Linked DNA regions of Homo sapiens: region 2 is linked to region 1. A link means that fine-mapping ties the variant in region 1 to the expression of a gene that starts in the linked region. Tissue or cell type: monocytes after R848. Region 1 holds a variant in brackets; the other region holds the start of a gene. All regions are shown on one strand. Distances are between the middles of the regions.

Region 1 (8,102 bases):
GGTCCAGCCTCCAAGGATGGTGTGGAGGTTCCTGCCATGAGATCAGCAGAAAGGAGGCCCCGGGGACACATCTGACCCCAGAGCAGAACAGAGGCTCAACTTCCCCATTTATTTTTTATTTTATTTATTTTTATTTTTTTTTTATGTTTTTGAGACTGAGTCTCGCTGTGCTGCCCAGGCTGGAGTGCAGTGGAGCGATCTCGGCTCACTGCAACCTCTACCATCCAGGTTCAAGCAATGCTTGTGCCTCAGCCTCCCAAGTATCTGCCACACCCAGCTAATTTTTGTAGTTTTTTTTTTTTAGTAGAGACAGGGTTTCACCATGTTGGCCAGGCCGGTCTCGAACTGCTGACCTTGTGATCCTCCTTCCTTGGCTTCCCAAAGTGCTGGGATTACAGGCATGAGCCACAGCGCCCAGCCCAACTTCCTCATTTATAAAATGGGTATTTTTGGCATGGGGAGCCCTGGGAGGTGGGCCCAGCAAGGCTGGGAAGCATAAAAGGGCTTTGGGTGATGAAGGGCTGGCCCATCTCTCCCCTAGTATCAGCCCCAAAGATTGGCAGCTGCCCCTGGGTGCAGCCTGCAGTGAGCCCAGAGCTCTGCGAGGAGCAGAGTGAGTGCTCCATGGACGGCGGGTGTTAGGGAGAAAAGAAGTGCCGCTTCAGCCGCTGTGCCATGAAGTGTCTGGCCCCTGTCCTAGGTATGAGTTCCCTTTCTCCCTGAGCTTCCCCTGGCCAGCTTGGGCCTTCAGTGGGGCCTTGAAAGTGGGTGCAGTCCATGAGCAGGCCCTGGGGGCAGATAGGGCTCGGCACACCAACCCAGACTATGCCAGCTGCAGGCCCCCAGGCACTCAAGGAAGCCACTCAGGCTGGGAGTGAGTGTCAGTGAGTGAAAGTGGCCCAGGGAGGCAAATGACTGGCAGGCCCAGTGCTGCTCGACCTGTGTGCAAAGCCTGTGCCTCTCCCACTTCACTGCAGAGAGCAGCTTACCTCCCAAATATTGGGAGAGCTCTAGGTCAGGGGTTCCAAACATGGGTTCTGGGCTAACCGTCCAAGCCCACCTATGACCTGGACTCCCTTTCTGGCATATGAGGGTGGCCTCATCCACCTGTCTGCAGGCGAGGTGAGGGCTGGGGGAAAGCCAGTGGGGTGCAGGGCTCTGCTTGCTCCCCTGCACAACAGCAAAGGGGCCAGCAGCGCAGGTCCCCGGGCCTGTGGGCGTGAACACATTAGCACATGAACAATGGACAGCGGATGACCTCCCTCCTCCCCACCACCCCCCTGGCCGGGCTCTGTACTGCATCTGAGTTCCCCGTGCCCCCCTGCAGAGAACACCTCTCAGTGAGAGACCTTCCCCTGGGAGCCCCTGCTGCCAGGAGTGACCCACCCAAGTCTGCTCGACAGAAACCATCTCTCTTGGATCCAGAGAGTGCATGATGCCTTCTACGGCTGCTAATTTAAAAATCCACTCAGCTTCATGTGTTTGTCTTTCTGTGTATCTGTCCCGGGCTCCTGAGGGAGGAACGAAGCAAACGCAGGCCTCATCCCTGGGTGCTCCAGGCAGACAAGGCAGCTGGCCGGGAACAGGGAAACCCCGTGGCGATAAGCATGTCCAGGTGGGTGGGGGAGTCCAGCCAGGTGCACTCAACAGGCGGCTGACCTCTGGTGAGAATACACAGCCATGGTGGCATCTCTGGGCCAGGAAAGGCCTCTCCACTAGGTTCTGGAGACACTGGCCAGATCTCCCGGGGCTGACCCCCTTCAGAGGTGTTGCTAGCCCTGCTCATGGGGACAAGATCAGGAGCTGAGCCTGTGGGGGTCTGGTAGCTCAGAGGTTGCCTAGGCCTGGGCCAGTTTCGGTGGCATGGCAAGGGCAAAGGTGTGGTTACAGGAAGTGCAAAGGAAGTGAGAGGAAGGGGTGGGGTGAGTGTGGATGCTGCTCTAGGTCAGGGGTGTTTAGAATATTATGTCCCTGGAAGACAGTCACCACCCCACAGAGACACTGAGCTCTGTGTCCACACACGGCTGCCTCACACAACAGGACATGCAGCTCTGCTGGTCATTTCAGGGTCCACAGTGTTGGCCATCAGGCACCCAAGAAGATGGCTGTGTGGGAACTCACACCTGGCCAGATCCCTGCGGCCCCAGGGAACTGCACTTGACTTGTGCAGTGACACAGGCCTGTTGAGCGGCTGGGAGGATCGCTAATGGCCAGTGCCTGTCGGCACCAAGCTCCAGCCCCTCTGTCGCACACAGGATGCACACTTACTCTCACACAGAGGAAACAGTTCTGTCTCCATTCGTATAGCAGTTTCATCGTCCTAACCTGTACCTGTGTCTGCTCTTTGGTTTGAGCCTGATCCCTCTAGAGTTAAATTAAATCTCTTGTCCCTTGTTCACTTTGTATCTATTGTATAGAAGAGTCATGATTTTTCCCTTTTTTGAAAATTATCTTTTAGCAACAAAAAAGCTGAACACGGTATACAAGGCAACTTGAAAGAAGGGGTTTTTATTCTCCTCAACTCTAGGCTGCTTTTTCACATGTTTGAAAAAATTTGTCTAAAACGCCTCTAGTGGGATTTTCTTTCTCCAAACACTTTCTACACCCTGGCTGTGCTCCTGGCTTGGGGGTCGAGAGGAATCCAGTTAGCTCACCAGGGGCCAAGGGTCTCAGCAGAAAGAAGAAAATCAAATGATTGAGCTTAAGCAGCAAGAAGAAAGGAGCTGTACTCAAAAAAATCACCAGCCTCCCCGTGTTCTGTGGCTGCACTTGAGGAGTGGCTCGAATTGGATCAAGTCCAGATGAGAGCCTCGAAAACACGAAGCCACAGCCTTGGGAGAGTCCATGATAAAGCAGAGACATTTTGAATGGGGGTCCTCTCTGTGTGTGCTCCGGCAGGACATAGGAGGCAGGCTGGGCCCTGGTCAAGCCAGAGGGAGGGGTCCACTACCTCACCTGCCTAGGTTTCTGCAGGAGCCCAGGGGCCCCAGGCCCAGGCCTGACCTGAGGTCAGCCCCATTTGGCTCACTGACCCAGCACATAAGGTCAAGGAGACGACCCATACCATCAGGCTGGCTGAGATGAAGGTGGGACCTGGAGATATTGCTCAGCTTCCTCCATCCCTGCCTCCTCAGAGCTTGCAAGGGAGAACAACAGGGCCGGCCCAAGCAAGCCACACTCACAGCAAGCCTAGATTCTCCGGGAGCCCACACTCATGAGGAGCCCACATCCATGAGAGCCACGCTCACTGGTTATGTGACCTGGTAAGGTCACTTCCCTACGGCTTCAGTGCCCACAGAGACCTCCATCATCATGCTCTGTCAGTGAATGGAGGAGGAAGGCAGGACTGACCTTTAACCCATAAGTGCCAGGCCTTCCTAGGTGTTGCACACAGAGGGACCAGGCTGTCCTGGCCAAGCTGCTGCCCTTGAGGTGCACAGGGGCCTCCCAGAAGAAAGAGCCTGCTCACTGCTGATGTGTACAGGAAGAGAGGAAGGCCCCCAAAAAGAGTTCCCCAGAGCCATGTGCAGAAGGACAAGAAGGGTCCCCCTAAAACAGAGCACCCAGAGCTGTCTTGAAGGCAGGGCCCAACCAGTGAAGTGGGGAGTCTGGGGCACCAGGGGCCATCTCAGAAGACACTGGTGTCAGGGACCAGGGACCAGGAGTGCAAGGACTGTTTGAGATGCTAGGTCTTTGCATCATCTTCAGCTTTGCTGTCTCCATCATTGCCTCTCTGTGTTCACTCAATAACTCAATACATCTTTGAGTTCACATGACATGTCAGGGGCTTGGGAAATGGGATGAACCATCCCACACATGAAGGGGTTCAACTAGTGCCTGGATTTTGTTCATGAACAATCCTCCACTGAAAGGCAGCAGGATTCCTTGGAGAAATAGATGGGCAAAGAAGGCACAAGGGGAGTGCTGGCGTCCGCCTGACCAATGATGATCTGCTGGAGGGACACATGAGCCTGCCACACATGAGCGCCGTGAGGGTACTGACGAGGACAGAGTACAGCACGCTGAATTTCTAAAAACCCCAGAGTTGAGAGTGATACTAAGACATGGAAGAAATGTGGTGCAGGAAGGCTTACATGTGAAAAAAATTAAAAATAGGCCAGGCAC[G/A]GTGGCTCACACCTGTAATCCTAGCACTTTTGGGGGCTGAGGCAGCCCTCGAGCTCAGGAGTTTGAGACCAGTCTTGGCAACATGGCAAAACCCATCTCTATCAAAAATACAAAAATTAGCCAGGTGTGGTGGTGCATGCCTGTGGACCCAGCTACCTGGGGGGGCTGATGTGGGAGGATAGCTTGAGCCCAGGAGGTCAAGGCTGCAGTGAGCTGTGTTTGCACCACTGCACTCAGCCTGGGCTACCAAACAAGACCCTGTCTCAAAAACAAACAAACAAATAACAACAACAACAATCATAGAGATTAAGGAGACAAAGGTCAATTGGGGACATTCGGATATGGACCTGAATCAGATGGCCTTATTGCATCAATGTTAATTTCCCTAGTAGGATAATTACAGTGGGGTCACATGGACAATGTTTGCTGCTAAAGTGCTTAAGGGAGAAGTTTGTGATGTCTACAGCTCACTTTCTTTCTTTCTTTCTTTTTTTTTTTTTTGAGATGGAGTCTCCCTCTGTCACCCAGGCTGCAGCGCAGTGGCACGATCTTGGCTCACTGCAACCTCCGCCTCTTGGGTTCAAGCAATTCTCCTGCCTCAGCCTCCTGAGTAGCTGGGACTACAGGCATGCACCACCATGCCCAGCTAATTTTTTTTGTTTGTAATTTTAGTAGAGGCAGGGTTTCACCGTGTTAGCCAGGATGGTCTCGATCTTCTGACCTCGTGATCCTCCTGCCTCGGCCTCCCAAAGTGCTGGAATTACAGGCGTGAACCGCTGTGTCCGGCCAGCCTACAGCTCACTTTCAAAGGATTCAGCAAGCAAACAAACCAAGAAAACTTTTGAATTGTATATATACAGCACATACACACACGCATATGCATGCCTATATTCATATGCTTATAAACATACACAAATATAAACACTTACATTGCATGGTCTGAATGTTCATCCTTCCTCTTCCAAAATTCATATGTTGAAATCTTCACCACTAAGGTGAGGTGAAGGTATAACATTCGGAGGTGGGGCCTTTGGGGGATAATTAGATCATGAGAGTGGAGCCCTCACGAGTGGAAAGGGACCACAGAGAGCTCTCTCTCTGCTCTTGGCCATGTGAGAATACAACAAGAAGATGGTCACATGCACACCAGGAAGACAGCCCAGACAGCCTCTACCAGACACCACATCTACTGCCACCTTGATCTTGGACTTCCAGCCTCTAGGAATGTGAGAAATAAATTTCTGTCATTTAAGCCATGCAGTCTATAATATTCTGTCATAGCAGCCTGAGCAGACTGTGATATACATACACACACACACATACATACATGTACACACAAGACATACATATACCCACACATGTATATACATGTATGCACAACACACACATATACATGCATGCACACATACACACAAATACATACACACATATGTACAGTGAGAACAAGCGGGGGTGAGGCAGGGGTAGGGATAAAGAAGGAAGACGGAAGTATGGCCAAATTCTTGCTGAATCTAGATGACAGATTTATGGATAGTCACCGTACCATGCTCTTAGCTTTTCAAAAAATTTGCACATTCTCTAAATAAAAAGAGGGGAACCAGAAAGGGCCTGTGGGCTGGCCCTCCAGGCCAGGGAGTGTTTGGGGACCAGGATTGGTGGGAGAGGGGCAGGCCCTGAATTTGGTAAAGCACAAGGTGGGAGTGTAGCACAGAAGAGAACCTCTCATCAGAGGAATGACTTGGGTGGGCTGAGGGGGCGCCACAAGGAGGCCAGATCTATGTGAAAGGAGGACCAGCAGGTAACATGGTCACCTTGTGGCACCTGGCCCAGCAGCCTGAGACACAGGTATGGGAAAGGTGGGTCAACAGGTCCCGTGGAGGCCCTGTCAATGATGCACTGTGTTGGTGGGAAGCCAGCAGCCTGCTCTCCCAGGCCAGGACCCCTGCATACTGCTGCACCAGGCCTGCCCCTCCCCATCTCAAGGAGAAGCTACCAGGAGGTCCTGCAGGCTGGAGGCCAGCGGACATACCCTTTCCCCATCCCCGTCTGTCCCTGCCCACCAAGGCCCAGCACTCAGCCTCCCATGCTGGTCAGGTGCTGGGGAGAGGCAGGGCTGAAATGGAGCCGTACCACCTCCATGCACTGCTGCTCATGCTGGGACCCTGAGGCCAGCCTGGGCAGCTGGAACCACCCAACCTTGTCTAGCCTGCAGCTCAGAGTTAGGCTGCAGGAGACACATCCATCCCCTGATGCTGGAGGCTCCTCCCCTACAGAGAAGTTTCACCCTGCCCTGGCCCCTGTATTGACTATGTTTCCAGCTTCTGCAAACAATGCTTTAACATCTGCCTTGTATGTATATGCTGGACAGACTTGGTTCTGCACCCTGATGATGGGCCTGAATCACCTTGCCTTGGCCTTCTGCCTCCCTCATCAGCTCCTCACCTCTCAGGAAGAGTCCTCCTCCTGGGCAGGGTACACTTTTCAAACACAAACCAACCAATCCAATGCTCACACCCTCAAACACCTCCTCTATGGGGCTCTCACACTCTGGCCACTATGGACTTGCTCTAATCACTCCAGGGCCAGGTATCAGACAATGAGGGACAGCCCTTCTGCTCCAGGCCCTGAAGTTACTCAAACCACCCAATCCTAAACTGTCGCCCTGCCTTACCTGTTCTTTCCCACAGAAACCACAGTAAAGGCTCTTGCCCACCACTCCCTGCCCCATTCCTCTGCCTCAGGGCCAACCCCAGTGTTTTCCCATGTGGCCCCTGTGGTGTGGCATGTGCCCTTCTCTCCAGAACTGAGAGTAATAAACTAGCTTCTCAATGGCAATCATCTCCTGATCCATCAGTCTTCATGAACCTCAAATTTTTTATTAATACATGATATTTTAAAATAGTCCCAGCCGGGCACAGTGGTTCACGCCTGTAATCCCAACACTTTGGGAGGCCGCCAAGGCGGGTGGATCACCTGAGGTCAGGAGTTCAAGACCAGCCTGGCCAACATGGCGAAACCTTGTCTCCACTAAAAATACAAAAAATGAGCCGGACATGGTGGCACACACCTGTAATACCAGCTACTTGGGAGGCTGAGGCAGGAGAATCGCTTGAACCTGGGAGGCGGAGGTTGCAGTGGGCCAAGATCGCACCACTGCATTCCAGCCTGGACAACAGAGTGAGACTGTCTCAAAAAAAAAAAAAAAAAACCCTTTCATATTTTTCCATATAAAACACTGCTTTAAGTTTTAATGTTTTTTCCCCCAAGACAGCCCAGCCTGTACCCTACTTGGGTAGATTTTACAAGCTGGTAAAACAGCCCCCTTTAGAGGCTGAGCATCCATGCCAGAGAGATCCATGGGGCCACTCCACCATCTCCCACTGCATTCTCATGGCAGCTGCCACCGGAGCTCCCAGGACTCTGATAAGGTGGACCACCTTGGCCCCTTCCCAGCTCCATCACCCGTACCCCCAGAGGCCTTCTCACCTGCACATCTGTTAGCACAGGTACTCAATGTCAGTGGCCTCCAGAGCAGGAGCCCAGGTTGACTGAAAGCCAGGAACGGCTATGAGCTGGGCCCTACTGGTGCAGGACAGGGCTGGGTCCACTGGGCTGTGGCTGTCACGACCCACTCTGCACACTGTACCACACCTCTCACCACACTGCATGAGGAGGGTGCTGTGGCCTTCTTGGTGGATGAGAAGGAAGGATGGATGAGATGTTCTGTGGATTTCTGGAAGGGTTGGCAGAGGTCAGGACTGTTGGCCCTGCTGAGGGTTTCCTGCTGGGGGTGCAAAAGACCCACCACTCTGAGTCCAGCTGGGACAGAGCCCCGGGCAGGCACAGAAGCAGGGGGAGGCCTGGGGCTGGTGGCAGAAGACCTGGACACTCACTCTCCATGTGTCCTTAGGCAAGTCCTGCCCTCCCTGGGCCTCAGTTTGCCACATAGATAGCAGGGTAGAACAGGCTGTGTATGG
Region 2 (8,102 bases), 130 kb after region 1:
ACCACTGTGCTCTAGCCTGGGAGACACAGTGAGACCCTGTCTCAAAAAAAAAAAATCTATCTTTTGTTACAAGGACTCTAGCTGAGAATTTAGAAGGGTAGCAAGAAAATTCATCTTTCCTCCCCTAAATATGCTACTGATAGAGGCGGGAGACAGCCAAATGCCATCCAGGTCATTATGCACAGGGGGCTTGCCTAAACATGCCTACAGTGAAAAATTCTATCCCTTAACACATGTGCAGTAAGGGAAATAAATCAGTGTGGAGTGGCTCAGATTAGAGGCCTACATGTGCACTGGGGAAATGGGGTGGAGCCACCAGGAATTCATGCTTTATGCAGGGGAGCCGGGCTTCTTCAGCTCCAGTATGGTGGCCTGATATTCAGTCTGTGGAGTAGGAGCCTGTTGGCAGGACCACCTCTTTGCTAAGGGCTTTCTTTTCACTTAATACATTCTGACCCTTCAATGTGTCCATGTGCCTAATTTTTCCTGATCGGGAGACAAGAGCCCAGATTTTAGCTGAACTAAGAAGAAAAATATCGTGCGTCACTAGTTGGCCTGGAAGAACAATGGAATTACTCATTTGAGATGTGGGTTTGAAGAAAGTTATTTTTAGTATTCTGATAAGCAGTTAAAATACTGCTGTCATGTTTCTCTCTTTGTGCCAGTCTCATGCAGTTTCCCAGCAAAATCACAATTAAACTGATAATGTGATTTTTATGTTTTGGCATCCTTTCAGATTTTGTTTTTTTTGTTTTGTTTTTGAGACGGGGTCTGGGTGTGTCACCCAAGCTGGAATGCATTGGCATAATCACAGCTCATTGCAGCCTCAACCTCTGGGGCTCAAGTGATCTTCCCACCACCTCAGCCTCCTGAGTAGCTGGGACTATCAGCGGACGCCACCATGACTGGCTAATTTTTAAACTTTTTGTAGAGACGGGTTTTGTGATGTTGCTCAAGCTGGTCTTGAACTCCTGGGCTAAAGCAATCCTCCTGTCTGAGCCTCCTGAAGTGCTGGGATTACAGGCCACGATGTCTGGCCTCTAATTACTTTGATAATAAGTAAGCATCTCCCCTTCTCTTTTTTTTCTGAGACAGAGTCTCACTCTATTGCCCAGGCTGGAGTGCAATGGCACAAACTTGGCTTTGCCTCCTGGGTTCAAGCAACCTCTGCCTCCCAGGTTCAAGCAATTCTCCTGCCTCAGCCTCCCAAGTAGCTGGGATCACAGGCGTGTGCTACCATGCCCGGCTAATTTTTTGTATTTTTAGTAGAGATGGCGTTTCACCATGTTGGCCAGCCTGCTCTTGAACTCCTAACCTGCCTTCCAAAGTATTGGGATTACAGGTGTGAGCCACCACGCCTGGCTCTTTGTTGTTTGTTTTTGAGCTGGAGTCTCGCTGTGTCACCCAGGCTGGAGTACAGTGGCGCCATCTCGGCTTACTGCAACCTCCACCTCCTGAGTTCAAGCGATTCCCCTGCCTCAGCCTCCTGAGTAGCTGGGACCGCAGGCATGCACTACCACACCCAGCTAATTTTTGTATTTTTAGTAGAGACGGGGTTTCACCATGTTGGCCACGCTGGTCTTGGAACTCCTGACCTCAGGTGATCCGCTCACCTCAGCCTCCCAAAGTGCTGGGAATACAGGTGTGAGCCACCGCGCCTGGCCGCATCCCCCACTTCTCTAGTGAATTTTTTGGGGTTATCACTGTGTTAAAAAGCTCTTCTCTTTGAGTCCCTTGGGAGATCCCACTTTCTTCAGTAACACACCTTCTCTGGCCCTTCGTAGCTATTTACTTTCCCAGTACTCTTTCATCATCTTGAAACCACCATTGCAAAATTATAACTGAGACAGTGACAGAGATCTGACCGAACCAACTCCATCTTGCTTCTAACTTCCAAGCTGTCCTTGTTCATTCCTGAGTGTAGGCTGAACTAACTTTGGGAGGAACTTAGTTTATAGTTTAAAAGAAAGACAATAATAGCCCTTTCCCAAAACAAACCCCCATCTTGCCTGGGGACCAGAATGCCTTTGTAGGAGTAACAAATTAGCCAAAAGATTAGAAATTATGATTTAGGAGTCATGCAGCTAGAGGCTACAGGATTCTGACCCTCCCCAAATTGCTCCCGGGAATAACATCACTGAAGTCTAAGATCAGTGCTTGAGATATTTTGCAGACCTCGCACTGGATGGATCAGCTGGCACCACCCAGATCGATAAACTGGCTCATCAGATCTTGTGGCCCCCACCCAGGAACTGACTCAAGCACAAGACAGCTTCAATTCCCTATGATTTCATCTCTGACCCGATCAATCAGCACTCCTGACTCACTGGATGCCACCCACCCTCCAAATTATCCTTAAAAACTGTGACCTCCAAATGCTTGGGGAGACTCATTTGAGTAATAAAAAAAGTCCCAGTTTCCCACACAGCTGGCTCTGCATGAATTATTCTTTCTCTATTGCAATTCACCTGTCTTGATAAATTGGTTCTGCCTAGGCAGCAGGCAAGGTGAACCTGTTGGGCCATTACAATCTCATAGCAGTGGCAGAATGGACAGACCAGTGAACCCTGTGCTAGGACAACCTGCACCAGGCCCTGGCTGTTGTAGGAGGTCCTTTTTTTTTTTTTTTTTTTTGAGATGGAGTTTCACTCTTGTTGTCCAGGCTAGAGTGCAATGGCGCGATCTCGGCTCACCGCAACCTCCGCCCCCTGGGTTCAAGCAATTCTCCTGCCTCAGCCTCCCAAGTAGCTGGGATTACAGGCAGGCACCACCACGCCCGGCTCATTTTGTATTTTTAGTAGAGACCGGGTTTCTCCATGTCAGTCAGGCTAGCCCCAAATTCCTGACCTCAGGTGATCCACCCGCCTCCCCGCCTCGGCCTCCCAAAGTGCTGGGATGACAGGCATAAGCCACCGCGCCCAGCCTGTTGTAGGAGGTCTTGAACAAACCACTTAACTTGTTTGGGTGGGGCTTAGTTTCCACGTTAGTAATCTGGAAGTAACAGTTCTGCCTTATCTGTCTGTTAGGGTTTTGACACTTAGTGAAGTATGGGATTTGTATACTGTAAAGTGATTGAATGTATTTACTAGGTGCAATACATAAAATACGAGTTTCAAGCACTGCTCTGCTTTTACTTATAGAACCACGTTCTCACTTTTCTAGCCTGATCATTCAAGACCCTTGAACACATCGTCCTTATCTCCCGCTCCTCATTGAGACCCTTCCAGAACACTACAAACTTGTAATACTTAGCTGTATCACCAGCAAACCATGTCCTTCCCAATTTCAGGACCTTTCAATGTGCTTTCCTCTGCCTGGGGGTGGGTGGGGGGTGGAGAGTAGTTTCCTCCCAACCCATGAAACCTCTCCACAAAGGTAGAAGAGACAGAAAACCATTACTGAATAAGTATTAAACCAGATTGTGATGCCGTACATCACATGCAACCTGCTAAAGGCAACACAAAGACAGAAACTCACTTTTTCTATGCAGCTAAGTAGAGATAGCCCATCACATTATGTAGGTTTTGCAATTTGGAGTCAGGTGCCAAGTTAAGCCTTTGTCCTCCTAAGAAGCTGGACTCTTGGCCCTTTCGTCCCTTAACAATTGCATTTTTTTCTTTCTTTGTTTTTGAGACAGAGTCTCGCTCTGTCTCCAGGCTGGAGTGCAGTGGTGCTATGTCGGCTCACTGCAACCTCCGCCTCCCGGGTTCAAGCGATTCTCCTGCCTCAGCCTCCCGAGTAGCTGGTACTACAGGCACGCTTCACCATGCCCAGCTAATTTTTGTATTTTTAGTAGGGACAGAGTTTCACCATGTTGGCCAGGATGGTCTCGATCTCTTGATCTTGTGATCCGCCCGCCTCAGCCTCCCAAAGTGCTGGGATTGCAGGCGTGAGCCACCGCACCCAGCCAACAATTACACTTCAAGGAGATGGCTCCCAAGAAACATTCCTGAGTTGAACCTGGCCATATAAGAAAAAGACTTGAGTACATTTGGAAAGGAGAGAGGCTGAAATTTTGAAAGAAAAAGGGAGGGGGATGGTTTCTCGTCCCTTCTTTTCCTCAGGGAAAATTAAACCCTATGTATAATTTGTATTTGCCCTTCCACCTGCATCACCTTTCCCACATGCTCCCACAGGCAGGCTCCTGTTCATTCCCAAGGCTCCGTGTCCACATCGTGCTTGGATTCCGCCCGGCCCCGCCTGTGCGGCCGCACCAGGAAGGCACCACCCATTAGGGGCTCAGCGCGTCCCTCCAGGCCACGCCGTCAGGCCTCCGTCCTTTTAGCTGTAGGGGCAGATTACGTAACTCCAGCCTTCTGGTCACTAAAGGAGGGTAACAAAGGGCGGTCGAGAGACTCCACTGAGTTGACACGCAGACGCAGCCTCAGGACCCTAAACTCTACGCCCCAGCACACCCTACCAAGCGAGCGCCCGCGGCCGCGTGACGTCATCTACCCCAAACGCTGTGGCCCCGGCCACGCACGGCTTCGGGGCGGGACTACGCGGTGACGTCGAGGTGCGCGGCGCAGCGCGCGGCGTCAGTCTTGGCTGGCAGACCTGTACTCCGTACTCCGTACTTCGTAGTCGCAGCGGCGCGGTCTTCGGCAGTCTAGTCATCCACCGCCATCCTGGGCCCCACGTGTTGCCTGACCATTCCTGAGCCCAGGTAGGGGTCCTGGGGGATTGGGTTCAGTGGCGGGCGGCGTGGGAGGCTGGGCCGCAGTGAGTGGGGGCACCAGTGATTCTTGGAGACCAAGCCTTCACTACACGTGCTACTTCCTCTCAAGAGGCGGTTGAGCGCGTTCGGAACATTTTACCCGGAGGAGACTCGGGGATTACTTGATGAGTAACCTCGTGCTTCTCTTTCAGCCGAGAAGTGGGGCTTCTGCATGACCTGGGTGGACCCCAGTAGGTGGGATGGGACGTGTGGTCAGGAGGGACCTCACCGGAAGGCATGGGGTGGCGTGTAGACCTGCCGCAAGAGAGGCTGTAGAGTGGGCCAGGCGTTGCAAGGAGCTAGAGCTGGATAATGGTTCAGAGGCACAAGCTGAAGCTAACTGCGTTTGGAGCTAACTGCATTTGTTCCCTTCTAGGTGGGAGCCGTGGCTGAGGTGACGGTCTCAAAGTGGAAGAGCTTACTGTCACAGCAACTCCTTTGCAAGATGCCCCGGTAAATCACGTTGCAGAGACCCCAACTCTGCCTTCCTGGAACTAGGCCTGCGTTTTCTCTGAACCATTATTTCATGGGGAAAATGAAATCTACTTCATGTGCCTGGTCTACTTACTCCTTCAGAAGTGATTTCTGAGCCGTAAGATACATGAGAAAAAAATGAAGGGGAAAAGGCAGTATTTATATTAACTACATGATGATAAGGATGTTTCTGGTCACAGTGAAAAGCCATGCTAGAATTGTAGTGTCATAGAATAATGTGGAAGTTTAGTTCGTGTTGTCTGATCTATTTAATAATTTAATAAGGTTATCTCTTCCAAGACACCTTCCCTTCTTCCTCAGCCAGAAAGGATCTTTCCCTGAGAGTCATTAGTAGCTCTGGGCTCCTGGAACCAAGCTCAGGTGCCTAATTGAACTCTGGTCTCTTCCCACAGCCCCCAGCAGGGACTGGTGCTTAGTGAGAGTGGACTGCCAGATTCCTTGAGTGTGGGGGATTTGGGTGAATGAGGGTAGCAAGCCTCCAGCGTGCTTGGGTCTGCGGTGACCCTATGCATTCCTTCAGTGCTTGCTAGAACAGTTTTGAAACGGTTTGAGGCCTTGCCCTGCTCCATCCAGAGCAAGGTTATAGAAATTTCAGACAATGACTTCCTCCCTCCTGGATCTAGTGTCCTGGGCCTTGTATAGATCCGTGCCATCTAATGTGGTAGCCACTTGGCACACATGATTAAATTAAATTTGGAGTTTTATTTCATTTTCACACTAGCCACATTTCAGATGATCAGTAGCCACAGGTGGCCAGTGGCTACCATATTGGACCGCACAGATTAGAGGGCATTTCTGTCGCTGTGGAAGTTGTTTTGGACAATGCTGGTGTGAAAGGTGAAGGGAATCCTGAGTGTTTGCTGTGCTCCAGGCTCAGTACAAATTTTATTTTATTATACACTTAAAGCAAAAGTCTTATAAAAGTTGAGGATGAAGCCAAGAGTGGTGGTAAGGGTAGGAGTTGAAACAGTGAAGAGGAATAACAGGGAAGAGTCCTGCCCTGAGAGACTCATGGAATAGGATATTTACAAGGCAAAGCAAAGAGAACCAAAGTCTCAGTTCTGCAGAGGAGCTGAGTGCCCCAGGAGCTAGTGGAGGGTGAGGTCAATGTGTGCTCATCTTAAAGGAAAAACTCATGGAAGAGGAAGGTGCTAATGTTGAACACCTATTTTGCGCCAGACCTCTTAATTGTTTTAAATCTTTGAGGTATCATCATGAGGTCGTTTTTAAGTTCAGTACAGATGAGGGGCCCAAGGTCAGAATTATGTGTCCAGGGTTGCCCAGCCACAAACCAGCAGATCAGGGTTTGATGCCAGGCCTCTCTAACCCTGCATCCTGAGTGGAATATAGAAGCCGGTGGGAAGTTTGGATGGGAAGGAGATGGATGCCTTCAAGTTCTTGTCTTGGTGTTAGGTGTGTTAAAGGACTGGCTGGGATGAGAAGAGTGTTGCTGGCTTGAGCATAGCACGAGCAGCACAGCTCCTGTGTTCCTCTGGGTGGTGGGGTCACCTCTCTTAAAGGTAGAGGCTTTCAGCTGATTCTGTCTTTTCAGGCCAGGAATAGTTGCTGAACACCCCAGGCCTGCTGAGGTCCCTCCTTGAGTCTCATGTTCAAGCAGTCTTGTGAGTAAAGCACTGGCTACCCCTTTTCACTTACTATCTTTTCAAGCATGTTCTACCACCTTGGAAGGTAAGAGGTTAGTACCTTCTTCCAGAGCAGAGGGCAGGCATTCTTGCTGTGCGTTGTGAAAGGGTAGAGTCCTGCGCTCCTTTCTTGTAGTAGTCCAATGGCTCATGCAGGTGCCTCTGACTCCCCTATGGGAACTGGGGCTTGGGAGGGTGGTGGAAAATGCTGATGCTCTGGCTATTGCTATTGTTTTGAATAATCAGTGGTCCCTTGTCCCTAATCGAGGAATTTTGTATTTTCTACCAGTGTCCATGAAACTGGGAGGCGACCGTGTTAGCTGCCAGTTCCTGACAGCCACCTCTCACCAGTGGCTTCACTCTGTGTCCCTGACCCAGCACATGGCACAAGAGTGCCTGCCATCCGTCAGTGTTTCTACAGCAGCAATCCCAAGATGCTGGAGCTAGAGGGGACCTGACCTGAGAGAAGATACCTTCAGTGGCTGCCAGGCTGTTCCTTGGAACCTGTGCAGGGGTAAGTGTGCAGGAAGGTCTGACCTGGCAAGTCACTTCACTCCTGTTTTATTTAGAGTCACCTGGCTAATGAAAAGTATTTTGACCTTCCCGTATGGTAAGTCAGGTGATTGAATCCCAGAAAGGTTCATTGTCTTCAAGCTCACAATACTATTTTGGGACAAACAGTTGTCTAGTGTTTGGACTCATGAACCCTGATTCTTGAGGGTGGTATTTTACTGCTTTTGTGATTTGGTTTCAACATATATAGTCTTTTCTCCGGAGTTACCTTAGGTCAGTGGCCAGTGTTTCAGCCCCTGGAAAGGGCATGGGCTGCCACTGAGGTTGGTCACAGGCCTCTCAGCTCATGGTGGGAGTGGGTTCAGGAGTTGGTAAGTAGGGTTCAGTTCTGTTGTTGCCACCGATGGCAACAGGGGTTTGTAATAATCCCTAGTTGTGTCAATTATGTCACTTAATTTTCACAACAGGTCTCTGAAGTGTTTCTCATCTCATTTTTACAGATGAGGCCTGCCTGTGTTAATACACCTAGTGAGGAGTGGAGCTGAATTTGAATGCAAGCCTTGGCACCTTAATTGAGCAAGTTTGAAACCTCGCTTGTTGCCCTTCTGGAAGGAGTCAGGAATTTCCAGTTCTGGGCCTGGGCTGTGGGTCTGGCAGACAGACCTCTGGCCCTAGGTTTGGGTGCCAGGTTCTCTGCTTCCAGAATGAGAAGCTTTGCTGTGCACCAGGACCTG

Alleles and levels. Positions count from the first base shown, and alleles are read on the strand shown. Sizes are in standard deviations (SD) of each study's normalised expression.
In carriers of allele A in region 1, the expression in monocytes after R848 of the gene that starts at base 4,495 in region 2 tends to be higher than with G alone (moderate effect, 0.69 SD a copy in Quach 2016).

Evidence for each region. PIP is the estimated chance that this variant, and not a neighbour inherited with it, causes the effect.
Region 2: it holds the start of SNHG15, and the variant in region 1 is fine-mapped to the expression of SNHG15 in monocytes after R848 (Quach 2016, PIP 0.95).

The regions. Positions count from the first base shown.
Region 1 is chr7:45,117,277-45,125,378 of GRCh38, reverse strand. No RefSeq gene overlaps it. Among named protein-coding and RNA genes, the nearest start is that of TBRG4, 9.6 kb to the right of the region's middle. RefSeq lists an enhancer at 701-1,526 and a silencer at 6,302-6,401. The variant G/A (reference allele first, on the strand shown) is at 4,126.
Region 2 is chr7:44,983,089-44,991,190 of GRCh38, reverse strand. SNHG15 (small nucleolar RNA host gene 15) reads left to right here and starts at 4,495. Exons shown (of 3, transcript NR_152597.1): 1 at 4,495-4,666; 2 at 7,145-7,369; 3 at 7,869-8,102. SNORA9 (small nucleolar RNA, H/ACA box 9) reads left to right here and starts at 5,681; the gene lies at 5,681-5,813. RefSeq lists enhancers at 1-250, 3,902-4,649, 4,685-4,804, 4,650-5,396 and a silencer at 5,923-6,103.